Linked DNA regions of Homo sapiens. The protein of the gene in region 5 purifies or fractionates together with the protein of the main gene of each other region. This does not show direct contact. Each region holds a gene or a part of one and is shown on either strand. Other genes may lie near its edges. The genes, in order: KCNT2, HERC3, ABCB9, SNX14, DCST1, ADCY3 and KCNG1.

Region 1 (4,334 bases), about 41 Mb from region 5:
ACTTTCTGCTACGGGCCATGGCATTAATCTCCTTTCCTGCTTACTGCACTTAGTCTGTTGAAGGTCTTGTATTTACTCAACAAAGTTTTGTCAAGAAGTAGAATAACTCCAGACTTCAAGACAATGCTTAGTATTTCTAATTATCCTTTCCTTACAAAACATAGAAATATTGATTTGTGAATATTTTGTAGACCTTTATAAATACTATATTTTTGTGTTTTAAAACACCTAATTTATAATTGATTCTTAAATGATAGAATCATTTTGTTCTATCTTAAATGGCAGAATCATTTGGTTCTTATTCTTTTGTTTTCATATGTTAACTTGCATTTTTAATAGCAACTCCATACTTGTTTTTTTAATTATTTATATTTAATTAATTTCAAGCTTACTTATCATAACTCATAAAGGAAATCCATTTGTGGGAAAATTTTGATCCCATGGTGTATTAGCCTGCTCTCACACTGCTATAAAGAATTACCTGAGAGAGGATAATGTATAAAGAAAAGAGATTTAATTGGCTTACGATTCCACAGGCTATACTGGAAACATGTCTGGGGAGGCCTAAGGAAACTTATGGTCACGTGTAATGCGAAAGGGAAGCAGGTGTGTCTTCACATGGCCAGAGCAGGAGGAAGAGGGTGGTGATACATACTCACTATCAGGAGAACAGCAAGGGGGAAATCTGCCACCGTGATTCAGTCATCTCCCATCAGGCCCCTCTCTTAACATTTGGAATTATAATTTAACATGAGGTTTGGACAGGGACGCAAATCCAAACCATATCATACAGTCATTAACTTTATCTAGTATCAATGTAGAGAATTATTTAAACTCCAGAAATTCCTAGTAGATATATTTTACAGCAGTAAAATGGTGAATGTTTACCAGAGAATTTTAATTTCTATAAATCATTGGTTTAAACTGTTTCACCACTCAGATGTAATTTTCTCCAAAGGACCATATATTTTGTAATATTTTGATATCATGTTCATTTAATTTACTTTGTCAGTATTTTCAGTGTTTTTATGGATCCTTATTCATTCAAATATTCATCAGAAACTGTTCAAAATTATTGTTTCATAATTATATAGCTAAATGATATAAATCGCTATCACAATTTTGATCCTAAAAGTAATGAAGTATGAATTGATACTTAAATGCTTCTGCCTGGTGTTCAATGTATATTTTAGGATCAGTCTGTAGATAAAACTAAAACCTTCACAAGCTGAAAGTGTGTGCCAGGTATAACCACTGATTACCTTCCCTTATGGTCTTAGTAAGACTGAAATAAGTTGAGATGAATTTATTGATTTATGAGATTTGTGTATGTCCCAGTTGTATTTATTATAGTGTAATTGCTATTTAATATATGTCCAGGTTTTAAATGTGAAATTTTATTAGCAAAAGTTCATTTCAGTTTTATCATATTTCAAATTTTTCTTAGATATTTTATTTTTCTATGTAGTGTAACATAAAACATTTTTGTTTCTATTCCATTGCCCATTTTGTTTTGAATAGGATTATTATGTGGTGATTTTGTGTCCTACTGAAATGGATGTACAGGTTCGAAGGGTACTGCAGATTCCAATGTGGTCCCAACGAGTTATCTACCTTCAAGGTTCAGCCCTTAAAGATCAAGACCTATTGAGAGCAAAGTAGGTATCCCTGCCTTTCATCTTGCAGCTTACAGTTTTGAGTGACTTAATATTTTCTCTTTCCTCCAAATTTTAGCAATTTTCAGTGTTGCAAGATGTGTTAAAGTATGTTTGAGTATAGACTCTTGCCTTAGTCCCTCTGCTGGCCAAACTAAAAGGTCAAAAATATATCATAAAATCAGTGTGTTTACTCCTCTTTTTCAGCCTCATCTCAAGGCAAAACTGTTCAGAAGACTGTGACCACACAGCACAATGAAAAAAGTGGCCCAGAATAATTATCTTAAGCTGTCAGAGATTCACTGAGGTATCCAGACTCACTGTTAGAGTAGTCTCCAAATCCCCGAATACTGTTTTTATCCCACATATAAAAATTGTGGGCTAAATATGGTGTGACATACCAGTGCAGTGTGAGTTAGGGTTTACATTTTAAAGAGCTTGCACTATGTATTGGACACATAGCACTTGTGTTGCCTGGGGTCAGAGAAAAAATGGTTGCCATGGACTAGAGGAATCAGAAAGGTGACAGGACTTACTTAGCTACCCTCAGCTACCCTCTTCTTTTTGTGCATGTACCAGGCAATTTGTCTTAAAGGTGACATAGTCTTAAACATTTGTCACAAGTTACCAAGTTGTATCATATGAGTAGAGTGAGAGTATTATTGAGCATAGCGTGGACACCACAGAAACAGAGTTTCTGCAAAACAGTCTCCTTAGTTTCAGATGCCAGAAGGTATCTTCAACAAAAGTGGTTTTGCTCAATATTTTCTGCTGTTTTTAAAGTTTTAAACATATCTTCATGTTTACCCTTGAGTTGTCCTGCATACTCTTCTAGATTTAAAAGTCTCCCACTGAATTGAATAGCATAAGTGCTTTATACTTTTTTTTTTCTTTCCTGGATAACCTGAGTGTGCATGAGCGGGTGTGTATTTGTGCCTGTCTTCACTGTGTGTGCAAGTGTGTGTGTATGTGTGTGTGTGTGTCTGTCTAGTGGGTGTTGGAAAAGAACAGAAGAAAAGTCAACTGTTTTGTGGAACAGACTTCTGGACTCCTTTGTGCTGCATAATCCTTCAAATGATGACTAGATACCTAGTCAGGAACTCTGATGTTACCTTTGATTTATATATAATAAAGTCGATTTAATGGAGTTTTTTTTCAATGATTCAACTTCTGAAAAAAAAACAGCACGAGAAACTAGCAGGATATAATGAGTGTTATCTAATTGGAAAATTACATTTCTTTGTGAGTATTTTCATCTTTTTGGTGGATTAAATACTTTATATTTGTGGTCATTGTACATGTGACAGTTCTTTAAGTCATCAGATTTTCCCAGCACCTCAGGTAAACCCTGGCTTTAGGTGTTTACTGTTTGCTATCTATACTCATTATTTGGGTGTGCTAGAGAAATAGATGCTTAGATACTACTGTAATCTAGATCATTGTATTCATTGGTGTAGATAATCAATATTCTTAATTTATTGTATGATAGTTAAGTTCTTCACACAATAAACATGAATAACATTCATATTATGTTCAATATGAATTTGTGTAATACATGGAGGCTTCTTTCCATCTAACAAATTTATCTGAGTTATTGGTATTAGCTATTAGTATCTAAGCTATATACTATTTAGGATTAATGTAACTAATTTATTACCAATAGTCTTAAAATGATGTCTTGGTAAAAGCGACCATATTTACAAGAAGAATTCCTCCATGTGATAAAAGAAAAGGGAAGGGAATGAAGGAGAGAGAGAGGTAGCTATCTGGTCATACTCTAAAAGCTATTTAAAAAAACAAGTTAGAGTGACGCAGTATCCATTTTTATGTTCATTTCCAATCTTAGCTTCCTATAAAATATTTGGGATTTAATATAAACTAATACATTTTTCAGTGCAATTCCTCATGCATAGAGCATGGAGTAGGATTCTCCAAACAAGTTTCATAGGTTAGTTACATGAGTTTTGAATTGTTTAGTTGAAAATGGTGTTTAAAGAAAGTTATCCAACACTCATATTATCTTAATAACCATGGTGCAACATTTTCCCAGAACTGTTTGGTTTGGTCTTATTTCAAGGACTTTTATATTTCCTCCCCATAGAAACCATTTTTTTTTTTGGAAAATATTTACTTTATCACAGAGAACCACAGAGATAAATGATTCCTCATTTTGAAAATAAACATTCTTGTGCTCTTAGAACATCATGTATCAAACACTAAAATATACTGTGTCTTTATCACTAAACTTAAGAAATATTGAACCCTAGTATGAGGGGAAGGGGCTTGGAAAAAGATGATGAATGATCTCCAGGAAGTATAAATACAAACTAGAGTTTTACTTATGAATACAGAGGAGCTGTATTCCACCCCTCTTAGTTTGATTCAGACATTACAGTTAAAATACTATTAATCATAAAATAAAGACCAATATAGCCCCTTAATTTACTCAAAGCATGCATATAAAATATATTTAATCATACAAAGAAATAACATTTGGCTTTTATTAACTTTTGTCATAAAACATTAAGTTATAATAGACAACCCAATAGCAAATTTTTTTTTGTTCAAAATCAGATATAGTCATGATCTGCTAGAAATTCAACTTTCATTTAAGCTTAAGGATATACATGGTCTACATGTACATTTTGTGCAATATATGGACTCAAGACTGAAATTCTA
Region 2 (4,334 bases), on a different chromosome or scaffold from region 5:
TCCACACTAAATTTTAAGCAGGGCTTTTAACATGAAAACTGGAATACCTCAGGTAAAGCCAGTAGTTTAGTTCTATATACCTGGCCTGCTGCCCTTCCTATCTGGCTTATCCTGCCTTGGATCACCTGAGGCACTTGGTGGAATGTTAGGGCTGGGGATGGAGAGGGAGGAGAGGAGAGCTGGTAACCTATATGATGCCTTAGGATGCCTCCTGATTTGAGAATTTGATGAAATTCTATTTTTTATCACTCCCAATCTCAGTGTAGAAGGGTAACTTCATAAGCTTTACAAGACTTTGAGCTAAATGTATTTTCTTTTGTGTTCTGGCAGGCAGGAATTTGTGGATGCTTATGTGAATTATGTCTTCCAAATCTCAGTTCATGAATGGTACACAGCCTTCTCTAGTGGCTTCCTAAAGGTGTGTGGTGGCAAAGTACTTGAGCTCTTCCAGCCTTCAGAACTGAGGGCTATGATGGTGGGGAACAGCAACTACAACTGGGAAGAACTGGAAGAGGTAAGCACAAAAGATCCTTTAACTCCTTTAACTCCGGCGAAGCAGCAGCAGCCTGGGGAGGTGTTCCCAGAGCCTGGTCTCGTTCCAAGCATACTGTGGTTGAGTTAGATTTAGAGGTGTCCTGTATCTCAGCACTTATTTCTTAGCCTCAAATGCAAATGATATATAATGTCCACTATAATATTCTTCCAAGATACATTTTTTTCTTTTTCTCTTTTTTGGACAGACTGCCATCTACAAGGGAGATTACTCGGCCACACATCCCACTGTAAAACTATTTTGGGAAACATTTCATGAGTTTCCATTGGAAAAGAAGAAGAAGTTTCTCTGTAAGTATCAGTAATCTCAATATGGTATTTGTCTACATTTTAGTCTTACATACAGTATAGGATGACATGCTCCACAGCTGAGGCTTAACTCATTTAAATGGTAAAGACCAGGTAATTCACTATATGTATGCTTTTTGTCTTAATGTTATCTCAGGCACAATATAGGTTGTTAATCCAGATCTGTTGCCTAACAAGAGGGGTTGCATGAAAGGAAGAAAAGAAGCATCTCACTGATTTTTCTTTTCTTTCTTTCTTTTTTTTTTTTTTTGAGACAGAGTCTTACTCTGCTGCCCAGGCTGGAGTGCAGTGGCGTGATCTCAGCTCACTGCAACCTCCGCCTCCTGGATTCAAGTGATTCTCATGCCTCAGCCTCCCAAGTAGCTAGGACTACAGGCACCTGCCACCATGCCCGGCAGATTTTTATATTTTTAGTAGAGATGGGCTTTCACCATGTTGCCCAGACTGGTCCTCGTCTTGAACTCCTGACCTCAAGTGATCCGCCTGTTTTGGCCTCCCAAAATGCTGGGATTACAGGTGTGAGCCACCACGCCTGGCCTGATTTTTAAATTATTCTAAAAATACCAATTATTTTATATGTAAGTTATTCAAGTATTCCATTTATGAAGTCAAATTGTTTGGATTAACCTCTCTTATCTCTCTAGCCTTTAAAATATATTACAAAGTATCCAGATGGAACTGGGAAGGTGTGATTTATAGCAGCTTTATTGGGCTATAATTTATATACCATACTCATTTAAAGTGTATATTTCAGTATACACACAGTTGTGAAACTAACACACAGTCAATTGTAGAATACATTCATAACCTCAAAAAAGAAACCCCATACCTATTAGCAGTCATTCTCCATTTCTTCCCAGCTCCCCCACCAGTCTTTCTGTCTCTATGGATTTGCCTATTCTGGATATTTCATGCAAATTGAATCATATAATATGTAGACCTTTGTGGCTGGCTGAATGACATTTGAGAAGGGTAATAATACCTTTGGAAAGGAGAATGAATTCTAATTTACATGAACAAATTCAGCCTTTTAAAAATGGTTGAAATATTTCTCAGTTTGTGTCTGTGTGTAATCAGCGTCAGAAATTAGCTAGTGCATAGTATGGAATTTTAGTCATGTAAAATCAAAGCACAGGGTTTGATAGGCAGTCTATTTTGCTTTATAAGATGGAGCATATATTAGTATTAATGTAGGACTTAACAGGTTCTGCTGCTCACATGGGAGCAAGGATGAGAGGAAGTGGAGATCTTACACAAGAATTCTTAAAAAGAGGGACCACTTCTCCTCTGCCTGGCTGCATTGGCTATTGAGAAGCAGTAGTGGAAGAGCTGAATGACAGGTTAAGGTTTGCCAAGTGAGCTTGTAGGGCTGTGACATTCAAGAGATGCCTGCTCATGGTCCTGGAATTTCCCTAGAAAATGGCACTTTCTGTTCATTAGACTTACAGAAATGTTTGTTAACTCTGGAGATTTTTGGCAAGAAACTTTATGTATCACAGCCTCAGGGAATGGCAGGTTATTTGAAAGTGCTTCTTAACTAATGATTTTCTTATAGTAATTTCCAGCAATTCAACTATGAGAGTGTTGTTCAGCACTAGAAAACAAGGAGCTGTCTTTCTCTGTCTGTCTCCCTCTCTCTCTTTTGCCAAGTCACAGTGCATGTCACAAGAGTGCAATGTCTAACATAATGTTTGGGTCAGCTCTTCGGGTTTAAGAAAAATGGAGACGTGGAAAGGAGAGCAAATAGATCCTAAATGGAATTCCGTAGACAAGGTGGTACAGGCATCAGGCACTTGAGGTGAGAGGAGACCCTGAGGTCAGAGACTTCAGTCTTCTTCTGTTTTCCCCTTAAGATCAGCTCCTCTTTTCCTATGACAGCAATTCCTTCCCTCTTTGATTTTGTGAAATCTAACATTTGTGAGGGTGTACATTTGATTGAGGCCTTTTTTTTTTCTTAACGGCATCTAATTTTCATTCCACAGGATGCATATTGGCACATAAATGTAATTGTACTTCTCATGCAAGCCACAGGGTGTCATGCCTTCCTCTCCTGTTGCCAGAAGGATCTCTGAGATCCATTTTCCGTTTGCTTAGCTGCTAATGCCATTTCTCGTTCTCCCCAGTGTTCCTGACAGGCAGCGATCGGATTCCCATCTACGGCATGGCCAGTCTGCAGATTGTCATCCAGTCCACAGCCAGCGGGGAGGAGTACTTGCCGGTGGCCCACACTTGCTACAACCTTCTTGACCTCCCCAAGTACAGCAGCAAAGAGATTCTGAGTGCCCGGCTGACCCAGGCCCTTGACAACTATGAAGGGTTTAGTTTGGCCTGAGGCTTCTCAGCTTGTCCAGTATTTCCCTTCGTTCCTCAGTGTCCACATTGAGGCCTATACAGAAAATCATGGGGAGTGATTTCTATTTTTTTATTGTCTAAGTGGGTTGGGACTTTTAAATACTGAGCCTGGTTGATGTGTTTCTGGGATTGTATAGCAGTAAACAACCTTTTTGAAAAATTAGAGGTTGGGGATGGGGTGAAAAATTGGCCCTTGTATGGGAGGTGTTTTTGTTTTTGTTTTAAACCAAACTACCCAGTATTCCTTGCACTTGTGAATGTGTTGCACTCTGCTGGATGAAATGGCAGTGGATTTTTAAACTTTAATTTCCCAAATGTCTCTCTCAGCCCTGATGTTTTCTCACAGTGCTTCCTTGTCCTTCTCTTAACTTCTCATTCCTCTATAAGAATGATTTAGACTGACCTGTCCTTTTTTATCTGCGCATGCGAGAACATCACCTTCCTCTGTACACTTGGAAATGCCTCTGGCTTGTTGCAGCCCTCCTTTAACCCAAAGGAGGAAAGGACTGCTTCAGAAACTCCCAATTCCAAAAAGCTGAGTCTGGGTCCATTATTTTGGCAGAACTCCTAAGAATTTATGGGAGCCTATATAAACATATCTTGCTTTTAAAAAGTTCTTGAGGGAATAGCAACTTTCCCATGGCTGTGCCTATTTCCTAGACCTTTTAAAAGATGTGCAGAGCAGCTTAGCATTCGTTGCAGCTGAGCCTAATTTTTTCTTGCTCATCCTTGTCCCTTTGACAATAAGGTTAATTGATAGACCCACCACCTCTTGCACTCTCGCTTTTGGAGCAAGTTGCATTAACTATTTTGAGTCTCTATATTGTCCAAGAAAAGTAGAAATAATAAATTTACTTTCCCTTTTTCTATCACCTTATGTCCTCTACCATTTTCTCCTTCCTCCCTTCCCTTATTTTCTCCTTTTCGTACCCTGTGTCCTCCCTGATTTTCCTTTCGTTTCTTCTTTATTTTATCCCATTCTCTGTTACTTGACTCAGTGCTCCCTTCCTCTCCTCTCCTTCTAGTGGATGCATGCAGCCTTTTTTTCAATTTTTATTTAAATTGCAAAATTTTTACTCAGATTTTTTTTCCTCTTCCCTAATTGCTAAGATTTAAGGACG
Region 3 (4,320 bases), on a different chromosome or scaffold from region 5:
TGCTTCCTAAAATCAAAAAGGAAGTCCTGAGGTTAACTTCAACCAAGGTTGCAAGTTCCCCTCTGTAGCAGGCTGAGTGGTGGCCCCCAAAAGCTTCCCTTGTCAAACCCCTGAACCTGTGAAGTGACCGTATTTGGAAAAAAGGGTCTTTGCAGATGCAAAGGACCGCTAGATGAGATCAGCCCGGATTATCTAGGTGGCCTCTAAATCCAATGACAAGTGCTTTTATAAGAGAAAGACAAGGCTGGCCAGGCGCGGTGGCTCACGCCTATAATCCCAGCACTTAGGGAGGCCAAGGTGGGCAGGCCATCTGAGGTTAGGAGTTTGAGACCAGCCTGGCCAACACAGTGAAACCCATCTTTACTAAAAATACAAAAATGAGCCGGGTGTGGTGGTGGGTGCCTGTAGTCCCAGTTACTCAGGAGGCTGAGGCAGGAGAATCGCTTGAACTCGGGAGGTGGAGGTTGTAGTAAGCCAAGATTGTGCCACTGCACTCCAATCTGGGTGACAGAGCAAGGCTCTGTCTCAAAAAAAAAAAAAAAAATTGAAATACTACTCTACCAGTTGGCACAGAGCCCTCCTCCTGGGACCCCAGAGTTCTTCACAATTCAGCAAGTAAGAATAACCACCGCAGGGGTCTTCCTGTGTCCGGGCCCAAACCTCCCTGCTGATTGAGCTGTCCTCCTGGGTAATATTTCTTTACTGCATGGATTGGGGTGGGTGTCGGGTGCCTGGGCCCCGATGGAAAAGAACAGGTGGCATTTGTTGGGCCTCAGTTCAGCTGTCCCGGGAAGCACAGAGGCCCCTGGGATTTCAAGGCAACGTCTCTATCCCCCTGCGCAATCCCCGTGGAGACAGGCAGACAGGAATGTCTACACCAGAGACCCTGGGATGGGAGGAGTGCAGATGGGGCTCCCAGACACAGGGGGAGGCCCTGGACCACCCAAAGTCTCTCTGCAACTCCACCAGAGAGGGCTGAGAGGAGAGCCGTGGTCTGGTGGAAAAACCTAACTGGGCGATGAGGCAGTTGGCCCAAGTAGAAGTCAGAGGTTAGGGGTAAGAGGTAGTACACTTTATTGACCGGGTTCTCTCAACATGTTGCAACCTCTGGCAAAGCCAGATCCTGGGCTTTGCCACCATCCCATCCACCAAAGACAGAAGAGAATGCATCTCATGAACATCCACGTGGCCTCCAGACAGCAGAGCACAGGGGCGGGTGTGGGGAGGGAGGCTGCCAGCCAGGGGTGGGTGGACGAGGGGCGAAAGCGCTGGGTGCCGGGCTGGGGGCACCCCTGAGGCCCCTCCAGACCTGGCCAGCCCCTCACTCCCCCAGTTGAGGTTTCGTGTGGTTCACAGTGAGACTGGCTTAGATTGGCAGCGGGCGATGGCAGACAGATGCCCTCCACGCTCCCTACCCGCCCTGGCCAGACTCACAGAGCTGGCAAGAGGGAGAGACGGAAAATCCCGTTCCCCGTGTCTCCCTCCGGGACAGGGAAGCCCCTTCTCTGGAGGGGTAAAGGGGAGAGGCCTAGTCTCTGGACATCCCCCAGGCTACTAAGGAAGGGCCATTCACTCCTGGCTCAGAAGTTTCTAGAACATCTTGGTGAAAGTGCCCGCCATTACTCCCAATTAGAAAAAGGTTTTTGAAATCTAGGAGTTGACTGGGGTGCCTCAAACCAAACAGTAAAAACCCTGGTAAGACCTAGGTTTAAAAAGGCAGCTCTACCTTTGCTTAGGAGGCTAGGGAGGTCCGTGAAGGCGTTGGCTCAGGGCAGCAGGGGTAAGGAGTGCCCTGGGAATGGGGCAGGGACCAGGGGCAAGATGCAGGAAGCGGTGATCCATGGGACATGGCAGGTCGTCTTTCAGTGCTGCAGGCCTGGGCTCGGAGGGCAGCTGGGGGCCTCCGTGGGCACATCTGCCAGGCAGGCACCGGGTCCTCTGCCCCACCGGGAGAAGCAGGGGCCCCCCATCAGGCCTTGTGACTGCCGTTGGCTACAGGCTCGTTGTGGCCAGCTGTGAAGTCTGCGGCGGGCTGAAGCCCCAGCATCTGCCGCTGCACCAGCTTGGCGTAGAGGCCGCCCTGGGCCAGCAGCTGCTGGTGGGTGCCCTGCTGCACTACGCGGCCCTTGTCCAGCACCACAATGAGGTGCGCGTGCTCCACGGTGCTCAGCCGGTGCGCGATGATGAGTACCGTGTGCTTCTGCAGGTTGCCATGGATGGCCTGCTGGATCTGCGGGGACAGTGGGGGCCTGGCTTGCATGGCACGGACGCCCCACCCGCAACCGTGCTTCATGCCACGGCCTATGGGCTGATGCTTAACCTCTCTGAGGCTCAGTTCACAAACGATGGCCAGCTTCCTGGGTTTTTCTTAAAGGGAGACAGCTCAGGGCCAGACACAATGAGGCACCTGGTGAATGGGGGATCAGCTCTACCCTGGCCCTCCAGTCTTCTGGTCCTTCCCTTCCCCCTCCTTTTTTTTTTTTTTTTTTTTTAAGTCTTGCTGTCACCCAGGCTGGAGTGCGGTGGTGCGATCTCAGCTCACTGCAACCTCTGCCTCGTGGGTTCAATCGAGTCTCACGCCTCAGCTTCCCAAGTAGCTAGGGGATTACAGGTGCCCGCCACCATACCCAGCTAATTTTTGTATTTTTAGTAGAGACAGGGTTTCACCATGTTGGCCAGACTGGTCTCGAACACCTGACTTTGTGATCCGCCTGGCCTCGGCCTCCCAAAGTGCTGGGATTACAGGTGTGAGCCACCGCGCCTGGCCTTCCTTGTTTCTTATCTGCCTTCCCCACTGGAATGGAAACACCATGGGGACAAGGGTCTTTGTCTAGTTAGCCCACGATAACCCCAGAATGGTGCCTGGTGCCTGGTGCCTGAGAAGAGCTCAGTAACTCTCTGTGTAACAAATGAATCAATCCGCGCATAGACTGAGGTTGCTAGCCATCTGCAAATACATGACTGGGCCCACCTGACCAGTGAGAATGCGACTCAGAGGGGAAGCACTAGCTTGAGGTCACACAGTTATAAACTGTAGGACGGAGCTGCTAATCCAGGTATCCCCATTCTGTTTTTTGTTTTTGTTTGTTTGTTTGTTTTTTCAGATGGAGTCTCACTCTGTTGCCAAGGCTGGAGTGCAGTGGTGCAATCTCGGCTCATTGCAACCTCTGCTTCCCAGGTTCATGCTATTCTCCTGCCTCAGCCTCCCAAGTAGCTAGGATTACAGGCACCTGCCACCATACCTGGCGGACTTTTGTATTTTTAGTAGAGATGGAATTTCACCATGTTGGCCCGGCTGGTCTTGAACTCCTGACCTCAGGTGATCCACCCGCCTCGGCCTCCCAAAGTGCTGGGATTATAGGCATAAACCACTGCGCCCAGCCTTTTTTTTTTTTTTTTTGTAGATGGAGTCTCACTCTGTCGCCCAGGCTAGAGTGCAGTGGCACAATCTCAGCTCACTGCAACCTCCATCTCCCGGGTTCAAGTGAGTCTCCTGCCTCAGCCTCCCGAGTAGCTGGGGTTACAGGCATGCACCACCATGCCCAGCTAATTTTTGTATTTTTAGTAGAGACAGGGTTTCACTGTATTGACCAGGCTTGTCTCGAACTCCGGACCTCAAGTGATCCACCTGCCTTGGCCTCCCAAAGTGCTGGGATTATAGGCATGAGCCATCATACTGGGCCTATTTTATTTTGTTTTGTTTTGTCTGTTTGTTTGAGCCAGATGGAGTCTGGCTCTGTCGCCCAGGCTGGAGTGCAGTGGCACAATCTCGGCTGACTGCAACCTCCACTTCCCAGGTTCAAGCAATTCTCCTGCCTCAGCCTCCCAAGTAGCTGGGATTATAGGCATGTGCTACCACACCTGGCTAGTTTTTGTATTTCTAGTAGAGATGGGGTTTCACCATGTTGGCCAGGCTGGTCTGCAACTCCTGACCTCAGGTGATCCACCTGCTTCGGCCTCCCAAAGTGCTGGGATTACAGGTGTAAGCCACCACTCATGACCCAGGTCTCCCCATTCTGATGCCTTCTCTTGCCCCACACCATACAGCTCTGCCTGGAGCCTGGAGGCTGGGTCCAGAGTGGCTCCTGGCTCCCCACTCTCAACACCAGGAATTCACCAGCCCAGGAGGCTGATAGTCTGGGAGAGCTCCTGGGGCCCGTCTCTTCTCAGCATCCATCTGCTGGGCGATGGGGGCTCTGGCCACCTGGAGCCGCTCCTGCCCCCGCATTGCCCACCACCCTGTGACTCACCAGATACTCGCTCTCGGCATCCAAAGCGCTGGTGGCTTCATCCAGGATGAGGACTGGGGGGTTCCGCACC
Region 4 (4,334 bases), on a different chromosome or scaffold from region 5:
GAGCTATGAGCACACCACTGTGCTCCATCCTGAGTGACAGAGTGAGACCCTTTCTCTAAAAACAAAAGAAAAAACACTTCACAAAAGAGGAAATCAATATATGGTCAATAAATACATGGAAAGGTGCCTAATTTTATTAATAGGGAAACTCAAATTAGAATCATGTTTGGGAAACACCGCATTCACCAAAGTTTTTAAAAGTCTGATTATACTAAGTGCTAAATATTGGTGCAGATGTAAAGGAACAGGAACTCTTACACACTGTTAGTAGGACTATAAATTGAAAAACTACTTGGAAAAATTGTTTGGTATAAAAACTGAAGGACCCAGCAGTTCCTCTCTCAGATATATACTTTGGAGAATCTATCCATGTTTAAGAACGTTCATAGTAGAGTTCTTTGTATAGCCCAAACTAGAAACAGCACAAATGTTCATCAGCAATTGAATGGACAGATAAACTGTGGTAAAGTCATAACGTTGAATACCCATATCATGAGGCTACTAGCAACAATGTGGATGAACTTTTAAAAATGTTGAATGAAAGAAACAAAACATGAAAGAATATATACAGTCTGATTCTTTTTACATAAACATCAAAACAGACCAAACTAGTGTAAGCTGGAAAAGTTTGAATAAAATTGTTAAAAAATCGTTGGGCGTGGTGGCTCACACCTGTAGTCCCAGCAATTTGGGAGGCTGAGGCAGATGGATCACTTGAACTTAGAAGTTCAAGACCAGTGTGAGCAACATGGTGAAACCCTGTCTCTACTAAAAACACAAAAATTAGCTGGGCATGGTGGTGGGCGCCTGTAGTCCCAGCTACTCAAGAGGCTGAGGCAGGAGAATTGCTTGAACCTGGGAAGTGGAGGTTACAGTGAGCCGAGATTGCACCACTGCACTCCAGCCTGGGCAACAGAGCAAAACTCCATCTAAAAAAAAAAAAAGGTAAAAAATAATATAGCATTGACTAGTTGCAGTGGCTCACACCTGTAATCCCAGCATTTTAGGAGGCCGAGGTGGGTGGATCACTTGAGGTCAGGAGTTCAAGACCAGCCTGGCCAACATGGTGAATCCTTGTCTCTACTAAAAATACAAAAATTAGCTGGGCGTGGTGGCGTGCACCTATAATCCCAGCTACTTGGGTGGCCTAGGCAGGAGAATTGCTTGAAACTGGCAAGTGGAGGGAGCCGAGATCATGCCACTGCACTCCAGCCTGGGCGACAGAGTGAGACTACATCTCTACTACTATTACTACTACTACTACTGCTACTACTACTACTACTACTACTACTGTATAAAAGCAATATTTCTAAATATATTTTATTTTTTATTCATTTGTATTCATTATGGTTTTTAGAGACAGAGTCTCACACTATTGCCTAGGCTGGAGTGCAGTGGCACAATCATAGTTTTTTTTTGTTTTGTTTTGTTTTGTTTTTTGAGACGGAGTCTCACTCTGTCACCCAGCTGGAGTTCAGTGGCACGATCTCAGTTCACTGCAACCTCCATCTCCCGGGTTCAAGCGATTCTCCTGCCTTGGTCTCCTTAGTAGCTGGGATAACAGGCGTGTGCCACCACGTCCGGCTAATTTTTGTATTTTTAGAAGAGACGGGGTTTCACCATGTTGGTCAGGCTGGTCTCGAACTCCTGACCTCGGGATCCGCCCGCCTCGGCCTCCCAAAGTGCTGGGATTACAGGCGTGAGCCACCACGCCCAGCCAACACAATCATAGTTCACTGCAGCCTCAAATCCTGGGCTCAAGTGATCCTTCCTGCCTCAGCCTCCCAAAGTAGCTAAGACTACAGGTACACACCAGCACACCTGGCTAATTTTTAAATATCTGTAGAGATGGGATCTCGCTTTGTTGCCCAAGCTGGTCTTGAACTCCTCAATTGATCTTTCCACCTTAGGTTCCCAAATTGTTGGACTTACAGGCGTGGAGCCACCCTGACTAGCCTCTAAATATATTTTATATGATGTAATCTGAAGTAATGTATATGGAACTAAATCAGTGAGTTAAATAATGCAAGTAGACATTTGGCTTCTGTCTATACCCACACCCCCACCCAAATCAATACATTTATTTGAGTCAAAATATTTAGTGTTTGTGTATCTTTTTATTGGGGGAAAAAAGTGAGGACAAAATATTTGGTTATATATGGCATTTAGGAGATTGGGTATTCCTGGTTACTGACTAGGTTTGATTGAAGAAGAAATGATCAGGGATGATCCAAGTTTCTATTTAAATAACTGGATGAATGCTGTTACTTGTTGGAATAGGGGATACATTAAGAGCAGTTTTGAACTTACTGAGTTTATAGAATCCAGTTGAAGTTTTATAAAGCAGGAGAGTCCAGGAGACAGGCAGAGATTAGAGATTTGAATTTTATTTGAAATCAGATTGAGCAAATAATTTGGCTCAGTAAGAACACATAGAAGACAGAAAAGCATAGGATGAAACCATATAATTTAAAGAACTTGGGAACATTCTAAGGAGGGGGTGTTATGAGAACCAGAAATACCAGAAATAGCCAAATGGGAAGGTTGGGTGGTTTGCCTGTCACAAAACAGTATTTTTATTCTTTATTATTAATGTCCCCTTCTATTGCCATAAATCTACTTTTTTCTGATTTGTTCAGAAAGCAGTTTAAGTTGTATTTATCAATTTTGATTGATTTTTAAGTCATTTCTAAATGCTGGAGAAAATCTCAAGATGTTTGATGTTTCAAATTAAGGGAAGCTGGAGATCAAGAAGTAATTTTGGCAAACATAGGATTTAGAATAGAAATTCTTAATCTAAAATTCAGAATATAAACTACTGAAATAGTTTTAAATATTGAGGCAGTTCTTAAAACTTTTTTTTGACTGACCTTTGCATATCTTTAGATACCATTATATATTCACTGTTACTGAAAACCCTTTGAAAATATTTCTTATAGAAATTTTCACAAAAGTAGACAAAATTATGTAATAAACTTCTTACTCAACGTTGTTATCAACCCTTGGCTTGTTCCATCCCTTCTCCCACCACTTACCTCACTGGATTTTTTTAAAGTAAATCCCAAATATTCTATCTATAAATATTTCAGAATACCATATTTATTGAAAATTTCCATGGAGTGTGAAATGGTCAATCATAAATACTTTTACAGTTTTAACTTGGCTATTTCGTATTTAAAATTACCTGGTTAAGTATTCATGTGAGCAATTATGAAGAGTTTTATGCCTTCCTAAAATAATGTTTTACTTTTAATTGCAGGGAAAATTATAAAATCTGTTCCTGGAAAACTAATGAAAGAGGTGAGTAACTGATTTATGTGTGTTCTATAACATGATAATCATAAACATATTTAAATATTGATAAATTTTGCTGGATTATGTACTAAAAATTACCTTTATTTTTTATTTTCTTACAATAATCTATCACCACAGAAAGGTCAGCATTTGGAACCTTTTATCATGAATTTCATTAATTCTTGTGAGTCTCCAAAGCCTAAACCAAGTAGACCAGAACTGACCATTCTCAGCCCTACTTCAGAAAACAACAAGAAGGTACTGCACATTGCATTAAAGAACTATTAAGTTTTAAGTTGCCCTACTTGAGATTACTTTTTCATTGTCGAGAGAATGAATACTTTGTTAATGAAATGGATTGAGCTATACATTTCCTTTATGTGGAAATCAGTTGAACGGTATACAGAGGGTATTGTGTGTAATTACTTGGTTCTTTGCTTTAATGTGGTAAATGTTTCTCTGGATACTATATTTGCAAACTGATGCCACTTCTGTATTTGGGGATTTTTAAAAGTGGTTTTCTTAGGTTATATGTCACCAACTTTCAATAATAAGAAATTAATTGCTATACTGTGTTTATGTTTATTGGATGGCATTACCTAACTTTCATGGCTTATAAAGTATTTTATCCATTCATTAAACAAACATTTTATTACATGCCTACGATTGAGTGCTAGGCACTGGGAATATAAGGATACATTCCTTGTCCTCAAGAAGGTGTTTAGTGCCAAGGTGTAGTGCCCAGCATGGGGAGCTATGGAAGCTCAGAGGACCTCTATCTTTTATTTTTGTTAATACTCTGAATGGTATCTTTAATATTATTAATGTTTTCATTTTATAACTTGTATATATAGATAGAAAATTTTTATTTAGTCGTCTTGCTAGACTTAACATTAGTTTTAGTAATATCTGGTAATTCTTTTATATTGACACAATTGTTGCAGATGATTGCAGTTTTGTTTTATTCCTGACTAGGACTGCTATATAGAAAGGAAATTGTTTAATTATTTCACCATCGAATAGTGTGGTGTAGCTCTTTT
Region 5 (4,334 bases):
GCGCGGCCTGGCTCGGAGAGGTCGGGCGGGCAGGCTTTCCCGACTGCAGGCGAGGCAGTGCGCGGCTCACCCCAGTCCCCGACCCACGTGAAGCGTACAGGGCATTTTATTAACCGGGAAGGACGGTGCGGAAGAGCGAGCAGGACGCCTCTTCACCCCGCGTAGGCAGTGTCGTCGTTGCTGTCACTAAAGGCGGAGGAAGAGAGCTCTTCGCGGGGCGTGCAGACCGGGCACCGCTGCCGCATGTCGTCCCAGCACGACCAGCAGTACACGGCCTCGCAGTCCAGCGTCCGGCACACGTAGGACTCGGGCGTCTCGGGTGCCTGGCACACCACGCAGCGCCGGCACAGCCAGCGGCGCAGGAGCGGGCAGCCGCGGTGCAGGATATCCGCCAGCGGGTGGCGCTGTTGGGAGGTGGGCGTTAGCGCCAGCCCGGGAGCGAGGCGGGAAAGAAGGGGAACTGGACAGCGTTTCCTGTCTGAAGTCGCCAGGCCTGACAATTCCCGCGTGTTGGAGGAGGCTGGGTTGGACAAAGGAAACCCCTGGAGGGCGAGGGTGCCTCCCTCCCCAACTCTGTGATGGAGAATGGGAGGATGCACCCTCCAGGCTCTCTCCAAGCGGATATCAGCCACAACTCTCATTTGCACTTTCCTGTAAATCATCTTATTTGGTTCTCACAGTGAGGCTGAGAAGTGAGCAGGCCAGATCGACTATCACTGTTGCTATCCCCACTTTACAGTTGAGAAAGGTGAAGTGACTCTCAAAGTCACACAGATAGTAAACAATCCAACTTGGCTGGACCCCAGGGGCCCTGATTCCAAACCACAAACCTAGTTCACTATGCTCCCTGCCATCCCTCACGACATGTCTCTACACAGTTGTCAGGGATTTTCCACAGGCCACCTTACCCAGGAAGCAGCCACTCTTTGCCCAAGAAACTCCAGAGGCCCTGCTGCCTGCCAGACAGGCAGAACTCTTGGGCTTGGCCTTCAGAGCCTTCCCTCACCTGGTCCCTTTCTAGCCTCTTTCCTACTTTAGCCCTCCCTGAGAGCTGTCTCTTCTGAGCCAGTTTCTCCTGAGACTAGCCCTGGCACTTCGCATTCCCTGTGGACTGAGTCTTTGCACATTCTGCTTGGAATGACTGTCTGGCACATTTCCATCTGTGCATTCACATTCAGTTTGCTTCACGACCCTGTCAAGGAATCCCAGCATGTTCTTTTTTGTTTTTTGTTTTTCATTTTTTCACAACACATTCATTTGGCCCCTATTGTGTGTCATGGGGGCTGGGGGTATCCAGGCCCTAGGGAAAAAGCTAAGCAAACACAGTCTCACTTTTATGAACTTTGTTAGGACTGATTAAATAAGAATGGCTGCCACTCATTGTTTATAATGTCAGGTCCTGTACTAAGATACTGTACATAAATTATTTCAATTCTAAATTAGCCGGGCGTGGTAGTGTGTGCCTGTAATCCCAGCTACTCGGGAAGCTGAGGCACGAGAATCGCTTGAACTGGGGAGGTGGAGGTTGCAGTGAGCCAAGATCACGCCACTGCACTCCAGCCTGGGCGACAGAGTGAGACTTAGTCTCAAAAAAAAAAAAAAATTCAATTCAATTGTCATGTAAGGCAGATAGTGTTATTATCATCTCCTTTTTTTCAGGTGAGAAAACTGATGCTTGGAGATGTGATCACTGCCCAGGGTCACCCAATGATAACATGCATGCATATGGAACTTGCTGCATGCCAGCACCATGTAAGTACAACTCATTTAATCCTTAAAACAACCAGATGGAGTAGTTAACCCCATTTTATGGAAGGCAAAAGCCCAGGCACAGCAGTTAAGTCATGTGCTCAAGGTCACACCGTTGTCATAGTAATGAGGGAAGGAGCCGGGATACACACTTAGGCCCTCTGGCACCGGAGTCCCACACCTGACCACCACTCTAGGCTGATCTCCAGTGAGCAGGCCTTACAGATCTCTCCAGTCTTGCCATTCTTCAGAGGGAGAAACTGAGGCTCAGTGAAGACCTTGGCCAAGGTGACACAACTTAATGAGGGAGTATGGACTGGAGTCTGCTTCCTCAGATTCCATGTGCCTTACCATGTGCCCCTGCATGAGGCCTTCCTGACTCCCAGCCCACCTGCCTCCTCCTGTCCCTTGAACTGCACTGAGCTTCTGGTCTGCAGCCCTCTGGTAGAAACTTTGGTTTTGCCTTGGGCCTCCTGTTTCTGTGCGGCCCTCTTGCTTTTCTATGAGCAGACTGTATTAAATCTCATTCTCCTTTTCTGCCTGCTTCCTAATGGTCCACTGAGTGTCTTAGGCTGGGCTGAATCCTGGGATTCAGAAACGGGCACAGCCCTGACCTTAGGAGCTGGATGGCTGGGGCCCTCAGCATGTGTTGCATCAGATTACACCGGGCTTGGCTGGGCTTGGTGGCTCACGCCTGTAATCCTAGGACTTTGGAAGGCTGAGGTGGGCAGATCACCTGAGGTCAGGAGTTTGAGACCAGCCTGGCCAACATGGTGAAACCCTGTCTCTACTAAAAATACAAAAAAATAGCTGGGCGTGATGGCGTGTGCCTGTAATCCTGGCTACTTGTGGAGTGGGGGGCTGAGATAGGATAATCGCTTGAACCTGGGAGGCAGAGGTTGCAGTGAGCCGAGATCGTGCCACTGCACTCCAGCCTGGGCGACACAGTGAGATTCCATCTCAAAAAATAAAAAGAACTTACCAGGCTCGAGTAGGCCTGCGACCATTGGTGGGTGCTGGGTGGACTGAAGGGAGCTGCCCCTTGCCTGCTGTACTTAGACCCAGCCAGGAGCTGGCAGCAGCACTTACGCCTGGACTTACCGGAGCCTTCTGCTGTCGCTCCCGCCTCAGGATAGCGGCCCTCCTGAGTTTGGTGAAGGCTGCTCTTTTCTTCAATAGGTCATTGTAGAGGAACAGGATCCGCTTCTTCTCTCGCTGGGGGCAGGAAGGGGGTCAATGATAGAGAAAGGCATCCCCCAAATATGGAGTTGGTAGGGAGCTGGGTGGTGTGTGTGTGTGTGTGCAGGTGTGTAGGGGTGGAGAGGTCTGGGGAGGGGCAAACCTTGGGGAAGTAGAAGGCTGCGATGACCCTCCGGAGTCGGTAGCCAAAAGCCTGTAACAGGCAGAGACACACTAACAGGCCAATCGGTACTGCAGCTCTCCAGTAGGCCCTGGCATCCAGGCCCACAGGCTGGGGCAGGCAGGCTAGGGGAGGGGCAGGCCAGGGGTCTGGTCAGGACCAGCCAAGGGGCAGGGCAGCCCTGGGTTGGACTTCCCATCCCAGTGGGAGGTGCAGTCCTCTGATTCCCCTGCTCTCCTCCTGCCTGCCCCTCACTGCAGAACTGCCCTGTCAGTACTGTAGCCGCTGGGCCCAATGTGGCACAGATCTTGCAGATTTCTATCTTGACTGAATGTCCTGTTGGACAGTGCTGCTCTGGAGGGCTGGGGCCCCCTAGCCACAAGACCCTGGCCTCCAGACTCCTCTGACTGAAGCTGGTCATGCTCCCCTTTTTCAAGCCTGCCCAGATGTGTTCCCTGCTCCGATTTCCCCAGCTCAAGCGCTCCAACCCCCATCTCTCCACACCCAAGGCCCAGGCCCCTAACTCTTTACCTTGGAGTCTTTTGACCCTTGCCCCACCGCCCTCGATTCCTCTGATCCAAACTTTCAGCATCACTCACGCATGTTGTTTGATTCCATCACTGTCTCTGAGGAGGTGTTCAGGGCCCCAATGGTTTTTCGAAGAAGCCGGGCTAGCATGGAGTCTCCCCCGACCTTCACCTCCAGTTTATGACTGCCTGCGGCCAGGAGGACAGGTAGGGAAGTCAGGGCAGGTGGAGAAATCAGGAATGTGTTAAGGGGGTGGATGTCAGGGAGGGGTCAAGACACAGAAATGCTTCTCAGCTGCCTGAGTCTTTCTGTCCCTTCCTGAATCCTAACCCCTCCCTGCTCCCAGTTGTAAGTGTAAAGGGGTACAGAGCCCCCCTCCCCTGCTGTGAGAGCTGTCAGGTTGCAGGGCTGTCATTTGACCTTGAGGAGGACAGGGAGGGGCTGAATCACAGAAAGGGGAAAAGAACAGGCAGAAGGATGGCTGGCACAGTGGCACACACCTGTAATCCCAGCACTTTGGGTGGCCGAGGCAGGTGGATCACTTGAGGTCAGGAGTTCGAGACCAGCCTGACCAACATGGTGAAACTCTGTCTCTACTAAAAATAGAAAAATTAGCTGGCCGTGGTGGCTCACACCTGTAATCTCAGCTACTCAAGAGGCTGAGGCAGGAGAACTGCTTGAACCTGGGAGGTGGAGG
Region 6 (4,334 bases), on a different chromosome or scaffold from region 5:
GCAGGACCAGCGGCCAATGAGTGCGGACAATGGGGAAGGCAGCCAGGATGGTTGGGGGTGGTGGTGGGCGGGGCGTGCCTTTAGCATTTGGCAAAGTAGGGACTAGGAACTGCTGACAAATATTTTGTACCCTTACTTCAGAGCAGAAAGGCTATTTGGGAGCAAAATTCTCTCATGGAATGAAGAGCCTGTTAAGACCTTTTTTCACCAAGTAAAACATGAGGAAGCTGTGGATGTGCAGTTTCTTTCACACCTGCAAATTACACAGCAATCATTCACCCAGCAAAGGAACATTTGCTCCTAGGGGCTGGAGGGAGCTGCCGTAGGGAGGGTGAGAGGAAACTGAGGCTTCCAGAGACACCCTGTCTGCAGACGGCAGGTAGCTGTTGCATGCACCTCATCCCATTTAATCCTGGATGTTACTGGCTCCATTTCACAGATAAGGGGACTGAGGCTCAGTGAGGTTGAGAGGAGGTAGTGGGGCTGGATTACAGGGGAGGGGTCACTGATGAGTGAGAAAGGTGGGTTGGGGGACTTCCCTGAAAGCCTCTCTTTCTCTGGAACCCAGGCATCTGGGCCTCCTACTTTTCTGGCTGCCCCCAAATGTCTTTGCTAAGCAACGTAGCTGAACAGTGCCAAGAGATGGCAGTCCCTAAGGTATAACAGGAGGCACCCCCTTCTCCCCATGGGAATTGGATGCAAAGAAGGGAGAAGCCCATGACGATGTTCCCTGTGGGCACGTGGCCAGGAGTACTTGAGAAAGGCAGGGGGCTGAATCGGGACAGGAGCTGGTGTGAGGTGCGGTGGGCAGGAAGCAGCAGGCCTGGGGGCTTTCAGCCTTCAGGAAGCAGGCTGCAGGGAGAGGTGTGCAGGACACAGAGCAAGAGGAGGCAAACTCAAGCCAGTCCTGGCTCTTTGGCCCTGGGCTCCTCCACTGACCCGGGACGGGAAAGAAGCCGTCATCCCTCCGTGGAGAGTATGCAGATGGGCATCAGTGGAGGGTCCAGGGACCAGAACAATGATGACGTGCGTAGAAGGGGACTGCAGGGCCATCAGATTCAGCTGCATGTGAGGAGGAATAATCAGTCATTGAACATGTAAACAACTTTGCAGAAAATCAACCCCTCCATCCTTTCCCTGTCGCAGCTTTCTGTGGCCTTTTCTGACCCCGATCTGTGTATAAACAGAGCTTTCCCAGTTTGTCATCATCATGCATATGCAATTTAGGCCCCACCTTTCATCCACATTATTTCCCTGACATTTTGCTGTGAACACTGGACTCCTCGTGTTTATTATTTTAAATCAGCGCTTTATAGTCAGCGAGTTTTTCTAGAGAGGAAACGGAAGCCCAGGGCTGGGCCAGGGGTGGGTAACTGGGTAGTTTTATATGCACATGCAGGCACACACACACACACACACATGCACACACACACACACATGCACACACACACACACATGCACACACACACACACATGCGTGCTCACTCCTGGGCTTGGTCTGCCCAGCCTTCTGGGTAAACCCTCCGTCAGATGGAATGGCTGGGATGCCAGGGTTATTGGCATTCTGCAGTTTCTTCATAAACAAACAGCAAATCCCACGAGGGTGGTCTAATGCTGGGTAAATATTCCAACACCACCCTCTGCCCCTGGCTGCCCCCCCACCAAATTACACATTCTTTTTGTTTTTTCTTTTTTTCTTTTTCTTCTTCCTTTTTTTTTTTTTCAAATAGAGACAGAGTTTCACCATGTTGCCCAGGCTGGGCCTGAACTCCTGAGCTCAGGCGGTTCACCCACCTCGGCCTCCTAAAGTGCTGGATTACAGGTGTGAGCCACCATGCCCAGCCATCACCAAATTACACGTTCTTGATAATAGATTCCACGGGTATGTGCTATCACCAACACGGAGACTCAGAGACACATTGTGCGTAGGTCGAGGCCCATGAGCAGGGACAGTGAGGAGGTGGCTGTGTTTACTGAGCTCTTGCTCTGTTACAGTTTAGTGCCTTCTGGCAAGAGGCAAATATTATTTCCATTTTACAGATCAGGAAACTGAAATGGGTGACAACTGAAATGACTTGTCCAGGGCCACATGCCTAGTAAGAGGCAGAGCAGGATTGGAGCCCAGGTCAGTAGGATTTTGGAGTTCCTTCTCACTGGAGTCATAAAAGAACCCATTAGGCGGTGACCAGTAGCTCATGCCTGGAATCCCAGCACTTTGGGAGGCTGAGGCAGGAATATCACTTGAGGCCAGGAGTTCAAGACCAGCCTGGGCAACATAATGAGACCCCATCTTCATACACACACACACACACACGTACACAACCACCAAAAAAAATTCAGCTGGGCTTGGTGGTGTGTGTGTGTGTGTTTTTTTTTTTTTTTTTTTTTGAGTCTGTCTCCCAGGCTGGAGTGCAATGATGCTATCTTGGCTCACTGCAGCCTCCGCTTCCCAGGTTCAAGCAATTCTCCTGCCTCAGCCTCCCAAGTAGCTGGGATTTCAGGCACCCACCACCATGCCTGGCTAATTTTTTTTGTATTTTTAGTAGAGACAGGTTTTCACCACAGTAACCAGGCTGGTCTCGAACTCCTGACCTCAGGTGATCCACCTGCCTCGGCCTACCAAAGTGCTGGGATTACAGGCATGAACCACAGCGCCCAGGCTGATGGTGTGTGTCTTGTACAGGAGGCTGGGGAGGGGGATGGCTTGAGCCCAGGAGTTTGAAGTTACAGTGAGCTCTGATCATACCACCCCACTGCAGCCTGGGGAACAGTGAGACCCCATCTCAAAAAAAAAAAAAAAAAAAAAAAGAACCCTTATATCTTCCCTCGGAGCCTGTTGAGATAGTTCCAACGGGGTTAGGGTTTTGGTTTCTCAACCCACAAGCATTAGAAGGAGCAATTTGGGGGATGAGGAGGTGTTTTTGGGGGCATCTTCAAGGAACAGAGATGTCTGGGGTGTTGAGTGTTGCAACCAACAGCCCTCATATGCACCTTCTCTGGCTGTAGGAGGCGTTGTTACATTATAGGACAGCATAGTAACTGATGTGCATAATGGTGACCAACTCATCAAGAAAATATTAAGGCCAGGCGCGGTGGCTCACACCTGTAATCCCGGCACTTTGGAAGGCCGAGGTGGGTGGATCACGAGGTCAGGAGATCGAGACCATCCTGGCCAACATGGTGAAACCCTATCTCTATTAAAATACAAAAAATCAGCCGGGCGTGGTGATGCACGCCTGTAGTCCCAGCTACTGGGGAGGCTGAGGCAGGAGAATTGCTTGAACTTGGGAGGCAGAGAGTGCAGTGAGCTGAGATTGTGCCTGGTGACAGAGGGAGACTCTGTCTCACAAAAAAAAAAAAAAAAGAAAAGAAAAGAAAGGAAATATTAAATTGCATTTAGCATAAAGTGTAGTGTAGTATCTAAAAACATTTTCCTCGGGAATGGATAACACAAGTTTGAACAAATAAGGATTATATTTGGAAATTCAGTAATGTGGGATGGCTCATTACTCAGTGTTACTGAGTATATGTCCATTTATTCACCATGTGTTTTAGTTATCCACTGCTGTGTAACAAACAGCCCCAAAATTTGGAGGCTTAAAAGAGTAACAGTTTAAACCTGGGCAACATGGCAAAACTCTTGTCTCTACAAATGGTACAAAAATCAGCCAGGCATGGTAGCATGTGCCAGTAGTCCCAGCTACTCAGAAGGCTGAGGTGGGAGGATTATGAGCCCCGGATGCTGCAATGAGCCATGATCGTGACACTGCACTCCAGCCTGGGTGACAGAGCAAGACCGGTCTCAAAAAAGAATAAAAAAAGAATGACAGTTTATTGTTTCTCATGATCCTGTGGGTTGACTGTTCAGCTGGGTGGTTTTTGTGCTTCACGTGGCATGGGCTGGGGTCACTCATTTGTCCACCTGCGCTGTTTCATTCACCTGCAGCATTCAGTTGCCAGCTATGCTGGCAAGTTCTAAGAAGCCTTTACTCATGTCTGGAGCCTCAGAGCTCCTCCTCCTGACCTCTCCATGTGGCTAACTTGGGCTTCCTCACAGCATGGTGGTCTCAGAGAGAAGGTGGAAGCTATCACAGTTTTTAAAGGTTAGGCTCATCACTATCGGCTACAAGAAGTCCAGGCTAACTCAGATGCAAGAGGAAATTGATTCTATCTTTTGATGTTTGAGTAGCGTGTGTAAGGGAGGGAATGAATTGATAGCAGCTGTCTTCTGAGGCTGTCTGAGAAACCAGGAGGCACATGGGGGATGCTGGGGAGACGGAACTAATTAAAGCCATGAGATTGGGTAGGGTCCAAAATACTCTGTGACCACAGAA
Region 7 (4,889 bases), on a different chromosome or scaffold from region 5:
TGGATCCAACCATTAGCCTGGCCCGGGTCCTGGCATGTTAGATTTCCAAGAGCTGCTGTGCCCTGGTGGAGAATATATCTTTCTTAGCCACCTGCTGTCTGTTCTCGCCACAGTCCCACCACCCTGGGCCTTGGCCCAGCCTCCTGAAAGCTGGGGCCCAAGTTCCTGGGGAGATTGTGTGCTGGGAGCTAGGCTCTTCCCTCCATCCCTCCCTTGCCCCCAAATGAGAAAAAGTGCCAGTGTCCCTCCCCCCTATAAAAAAGACAGGCTGCCTCGGGAGCCTCCCTGCTGTGCTGCAGGCAAGCAAAATAACACCAAATGCACGTTTGCGTTTGCCTTCTTCTACGGGGAGGTGTTTGGGGACTGGAGCCAGAAGATCCTTTTCTCTTTGCCTCCTTGTAGCTCAAAATTAAGCAGAGAAGCAGGCTTGGGGGAGCAGTGGGGACCTCAGGACGGCAGGAAGGGAGACACCTGCTTACCAGAGTCCTCTGGAGGGAGAGCATGATCGGACCTGCCCGGGGAGGTGTGGGTATGAGAGTGAAGACTCACCTCAGGGCAACGGACAGTCTTAGGCACAATTCAGATCCTATTTGTAGCAAAGTCACTTCATTTCTGATTTCGTTAATCAAATACAGTCTGCTGGATGATAAAAATGGTCCACAGCAATGGAGTGCTTCAGCTAGGTTCTTCGCCTCTCCCTTTTTATTAATTCTATTTAGAGGGGCTTTACCAGCTGCCATTTTTCACCCACAGGCTCCATTTCTGGGCTTAATGCAACAACCAAGGGTAGATTCCTGTACCCCTAGACCTCTGGCAACAGGCAATGTTGACTCTTCATCAACATTGGAAAGCAGGGTGGAGAAAGGACAGCCGAGCCAAGGTACCTACTGCGGCTCCAGGAGGTGAGTTCCTCGGAGCTGGTTTGCGTCGCTTAGCCCTGCATCCAGCACACATCTCTTTGTTCTTCTGTTTCCTGAGGCACCTCCCTCACCTCTTGCCAGAGCCCAGCTGTGGGTCTGGTGCAGAGAATTCAAAGTGGTGCTCAGATCTGCCCCAATCAGGCTCCAGGACAAGCTTCGGGAAAGTCTTTGGGGATGGGGAGAAGCAAGTAACCTCTGCCTCCCATGTCACATCTCCCTCCCAGAGGCCAAAAAGGCAACCCAGAGTTTGGCAAAACTAGGGGTTTGGTTGATTTTTTTACTCCCAAGGTTTGACAACCCAGGCTGTAGGCTGCGGGCCTGGGCTCTCAAGTCTCAGGAGAAGAACCTAGGTTGCCTCGTTTCCAGTGTGCTTGCAGTTCCCTGCAGGTTAGGAGTGTGTCCCAGGACAGACATCTTTCCCGTGGAACGGGCTGGCTTCGAGAATGACTGAGGAGGGTGATCCCCAGGGGCCAGCGCTTGCCTGTTTTTCAAACACACCTTCCCTCCTTCCCCTCCTATCAGGCGACTCTGCAGGGCTCCAAAAGCCGGGGGAGGCACAAATAGAGCTCAGGTCTGGCAGAGCCTGAAAAATCCCCCAAAGAAGGACAGCATGCCCTAGCCACAGTGCCGACCGCAAGGCCCCAATCAGCAGTGCCAAACTTTTCTTGGAGATGTGCTGCCGGTGAGGCTCTTCATAGGGACTCTGCCATCATGGGTATGGGGGTATCAAACACACACTAATGAATAAACCTCTGCTCAGATTCATAGGGCAGGAACTTCCCCCACCCCACAATGAATCAGACCAGTTCCTGCTCCCTCCTCTTACTTCCCCCTGTACTTATCTCAGGGAGTCAGCAAAGGGGGTGGGGGCGTCTGTGTCTGTCTCCCTCTTCTATGTGTCTGTCATTTACCTGGGTAACTTTGGTGCCTGGCACCCTTTAAGTGCTTAATAACAGCGAGTGCTTAAGAAAATGCCTGCTGAATGGACAACCTAACTCATAAACCCCATTGGTGGGAACCTGCATTCCTCAGTAATGTCGGATCAGTGTTTCTCAACTCCTCCCCACCCTACCCCATCACCCGCCCCTAAGGAGCTTTGAAAAGATCTTTTCTTCCTATTCTAGAACCAATTCCAGCTTCCACACCTCCCACCTTGAGAAGGAATGCATTAGATGAACCAAGACTTCTGCCTATATACATGGGCTGCTACAGTTGGCCACCCCGGCAGTCTGCGGCCTCCCAAGCGGGGGCCTGGGTCTTAATCCTTACTTCTCTCTAAGCTGCATGAAGGGTGCCCCCATTCCATCCCTCTTCACTTCTCCCCAGCATAGCGCCTCCATAAATGTTTGTGAACTGGATGAATGACTGTTGAGCGCTTGGTATGATGAGCTGCTTACAATAGGTGCTCAACCAATCTTTGTCCAATCTATGAATGAATGAATGAACTTCACCCTTTTCCTTCCATACCTCCGGGCTGAGCCTCTCTCCCACATGGAAACCCTAAGGCTGAGACCACCACCTTCCTACCAGTTCCTGGGGGTGCCCAGTGAACTGTCTCAGTATCCCCAGTGCCTAGCACACAGTAGGCGCTCAATAAACGCTTGCTGTGTTCATAATGAATGACTCAATCAGGCCCACGGTGGGGGTGAAGGGGGGCTCCATACTGTGCCTAAGGATACAGTGAATGAGCAAGTGACACACACTCCCCCACCCCAATCCCTAACTCTCCTTCCTCCCAGGATCGGGGGAGAAACCTCGGCCCACAGCCGGGATGCGCCCCCGCCGGGGTCACCGCGGCGGCGAACGTCCCGGACTTCGCATCCCGGTGACCCCTTGGGATGAACCGAAGCCGGACCCGCACCTTGGCCGTAACAAGCGCGCTCCACGCCGCCACGCACCAGCGGTGACTCCCGAGTCCTCTGTCGCCCTGGCCTCCCCGCAGGCGGGTTTCGAGGCCCCCGCAGGGAGTTCAGGGCCACGGCCACGTGCAGCCGCCCCCGAGCCCGAGTTTGCAGGCTCGGGGTCCGGTTCGCGCTTCGGTGGCGCCCGGCGAGGCTGCAGCGCGCAAAGTTCCCACCTCAAGTTCCCGTCGCGGCGTCCCCGCCTCGGAGTTGGCCCGGCCGCGGCTTCCGTTCCCCCCGGCTGCCCACGGGTCCGGGGCGAGGACGCGAGAGGGGCCTGGAAGTCGCCCGGGGAGCCCGCTCTGCCTCCCGGAGCCGCCGCCAAACTTCGGTCCCGGGGCCCGGCTCAGCTCCCGCCCTCGGAGCCACGGCCGCCCCGTCTCTGCCTCCCGGTCCCCGCCGGGCTCCGAGTGCGCCGGGAGCGCGGCGCAGCAGCCGCCGAGGGAGGGAGCGAGGCAGGAGGCGGGACGGAGGGAGGGGACTGAGCGCGGGGCGGGGAGAAGGGGCGGGCAGCCGAAAGCGCAGCGCCTGGCCTCGCCTCGCTTCGGGACAGTGGCAGCGGCGCCACCGTCACGGGGCGTCCAGGCGCCCAATCGGGACCCCGCACCTTGGATCCGGGGGCCCTGGCGCGCCTGCTGGATTGCGCTCCTCGCGGCCAGTTCCTGAGCCCGCGTCCGGGACTGCTCGCGCTACGCCCTCCCTCCCGTTGCCTTCTTCCCCGTCTGCTCTCCCAGGAGCGACCACCCTGCGGCCCCTTCGCCTGCACGCGACAGCCTTCAAGGTCCCCGCGCTCCGCTGCCCTGGAGCTTCACGCACCAGGCGGCGCGGCAGCCTCCTAGGGTCGCGCGCCCTGTCAGCTTTCCCCGCGGTGCAAGTGCTCCGGTGGTCCCGGGTCCGCGCCCCTAGCAGCACCGCCCCAGGGTCTACATGTGCTAGATATTAAAACCCCACTCTCCGCTGCCCCGGGGCCGCGCTCCACGCGCTTACACATCCTGGGAACCACATGCGCCATGTCTCCTGCCTTTCCCTGGAAGTCCTGGAAGTCCAAGTGCACTGCTGCCTCTGGGTCCCTCGCCCCCCTACCCCGGGCAAATACTGCATCCTTGAGGCCCTCCACGCGCTGCTGCCCTGGAGCCGAACGCTCCAAGCAAGCTTCCACATCCTGGGGGCCATATATCGCGCGCCTTTTCTCGACCTCCTAGACCAATGTTGCCCTTGGGCCCTTCCTGCCACCGCCACCCAGGGACTGCCAGCATCTTGCTGTGCCAAATTCCTAGGGCCAGTACGTACCGTGCCAGGTGTTTTCCCTTCCAGTCCCGCGGGGCCGAGGCCCCAGAGCCCTCCCGGGCTAGCAGAGCCGCACTTCGTCGTCCACTCCCCTGGCCGGTGCAGGGCACTTGGACCAGGTCCTGGGGTCTTGCTCCCAGTGTGGCCGCCTAGCCTCGGAGTTGGTAGGATGCTGCACAGATGCTGGAGGTTGGGTTGGAGGGATCTATTGGGTTGGAGGAATCTACTGAGTTGGAGGGACCTATTGGTTTGGAGGGATCTGTGCTGCTGGCAGGGCTGGCCTCTTAGGGTGGCTTGCCTTGCACTCCGTTCCTCTTCTCCTTTCTGTCTCTTGCACTCCGTTCCTCTTCTCCTTTCTGTCTCTTGCACTCCGTTCCTCTTTTCCTTTCTGTCTCTACTGCCTTTGCCTATCATCAGAGAACCAAGAAAGGACATGAAGAAACCCTGCTGCCGACCAGCCTGAGGCCTTCTGCTTGAGTGGGGCTCGGGTTGGGGAGTCGTGGGTGCTCATTAAGTGGGTTAGGGTTAACCCTAAGAAATGAGCGCAGGGCACACTAGCCTGCGCGGCAGTCCCAGCCGGGTGGAGCATAGGAGTTCCAGGTTATAGTGCACTATGATGGCACCACTGCAATCCAGCCTGCGTGACTGAGCGAGATCCAGCCTCTAAAACAACAAGAATAAAAACACTGGCTTACTGGTGAGGTGGAGGCCTGGACAGACAAGGATCTGCCTAAGGACCTGTTTCCAAGAGCTCACCTTCTACTGGGGGCTTGGCAGAATT

The links.
Region 1: the proteins of DCST1 (region 5) and KCNT2 purify together in Homo sapiens (affinity purification with mass spectrometry; one large-scale study listed by BioGRID and IntAct). This does not show direct contact.
Region 2: the proteins of DCST1 (region 5) and HERC3 purify together in Homo sapiens (affinity purification with mass spectrometry; one large-scale study listed by BioGRID and IntAct). This does not show direct contact.
Region 3: the proteins of DCST1 (region 5) and ABCB9 purify together in Homo sapiens (affinity purification with mass spectrometry; one large-scale study listed by BioGRID and IntAct). This does not show direct contact.
Region 4: the proteins of DCST1 (region 5) and SNX14 purify together in Homo sapiens (affinity purification with mass spectrometry; one large-scale study listed by BioGRID and IntAct). This does not show direct contact.
Region 6: the proteins of DCST1 (region 5) and ADCY3 purify together in Homo sapiens (affinity purification with mass spectrometry; one large-scale study listed by BioGRID and IntAct). This does not show direct contact.
Region 7: the proteins of DCST1 (region 5) and KCNG1 purify together in Homo sapiens (affinity purification with mass spectrometry; one large-scale study listed by BioGRID and IntAct). This does not show direct contact.

The regions. Positions count from the first base shown.
Region 1 is NC_000001.11:196,423,176-196,427,509, reverse strand, and holds part of KCNT2 (potassium channel subfamily T member 2), read left to right. Parts: intron 1-1,521; coding exon 1,522-1,658; intron 1,659-4,334. UniProt on the Homo sapiens protein: Sodium-activated and chloride-activated potassium channel. Produces rapidly activating outward rectifier K(+) currents. Contributes to regulate neuronal excitability.
Region 2 is NC_000004.12:88,703,768-88,708,101, forward strand, and holds part of HERC3 (probable E3 ubiquitin-protein ligase HERC3), read left to right. Parts: intron 1-330; coding exon 331-514; intron 515-740; coding exon 741-843; intron 844-2,984; coding exon 2,985-3,193; 3' UTR 3,194-4,334. UniProt on the Homo sapiens protein: E3 ubiquitin-protein ligase which accepts ubiquitin from an E2 ubiquitin-conjugating enzyme in the form of a thioester and then directly transfers the ubiquitin to targeted substrates.
Region 3 is NC_000012.12:122,927,942-122,932,261, forward strand, and holds the end of ABCB9 (ABC-type oligopeptide transporter ABCB9), read right to left. Parts: coding exon 4,251-4,320; intron 2,231-4,250; coding exon 1,970-2,230; 3' UTR 1,051-1,969; downstream 1-1,050. UniProt on the Homo sapiens protein: ATP-dependent low-affinity peptide transporter which translocates a broad spectrum of peptides from the cytosol to the lysosomal lumen for degradation.
Region 4 is NC_000006.12:85,516,974-85,521,307, reverse strand, and holds part of SNX14 (sorting nexin-14), read left to right. Parts: intron 1-3,259; coding exon 3,260-3,300; intron 3,301-3,432; coding exon 3,433-3,552; intron 3,553-4,334. UniProt on the Homo sapiens protein: Plays a role in maintaining normal neuronal excitability and synaptic transmission. May be involved in several stages of intracellular trafficking. Required for autophagosome clearance, possibly by mediating the fusion of lysosomes with autophagosomes.
Region 5 is NC_000001.11:155,046,687-155,051,020, reverse strand, and holds the end of DCST1 (E3 ubiquitin-protein ligase DCST1), read right to left. Parts: intron 3,826-4,334; coding exon 3,709-3,825; intron 3,235-3,708; coding exon 3,092-3,234; intron 2,965-3,091; coding exon 2,851-2,964; intron 1,753-2,850; exon of another isoform or gene 1,660-1,752; intron 415-1,659; exon of another isoform or gene 405-414; coding exon 153-404; 3' UTR 91-152; downstream 1-90.
Region 6 is NC_000002.12:24,909,692-24,914,025, reverse strand, and holds part of ADCY3 (adenylate cyclase type 3), read left to right. Parts: intron 1-4,334.
Region 7 is NC_000020.11:51,019,873-51,024,761, forward strand, and holds the start of KCNG1 (voltage-gated potassium channel regulatory subunit KCNG1), read right to left. Parts: upstream 3,236-4,889; 5' UTR 2,998-3,235; exon of another isoform or gene 2,782-2,997; intron 1-2,781. UniProt on the Homo sapiens protein: Regulatory alpha-subunit of the voltage-gated potassium (Kv) channel which, when coassembled with KCNB1 or KCNB2, can modulate their expression and their gating kinetics by acting on deactivation upon repolarization and inactivation during maintained depolarization.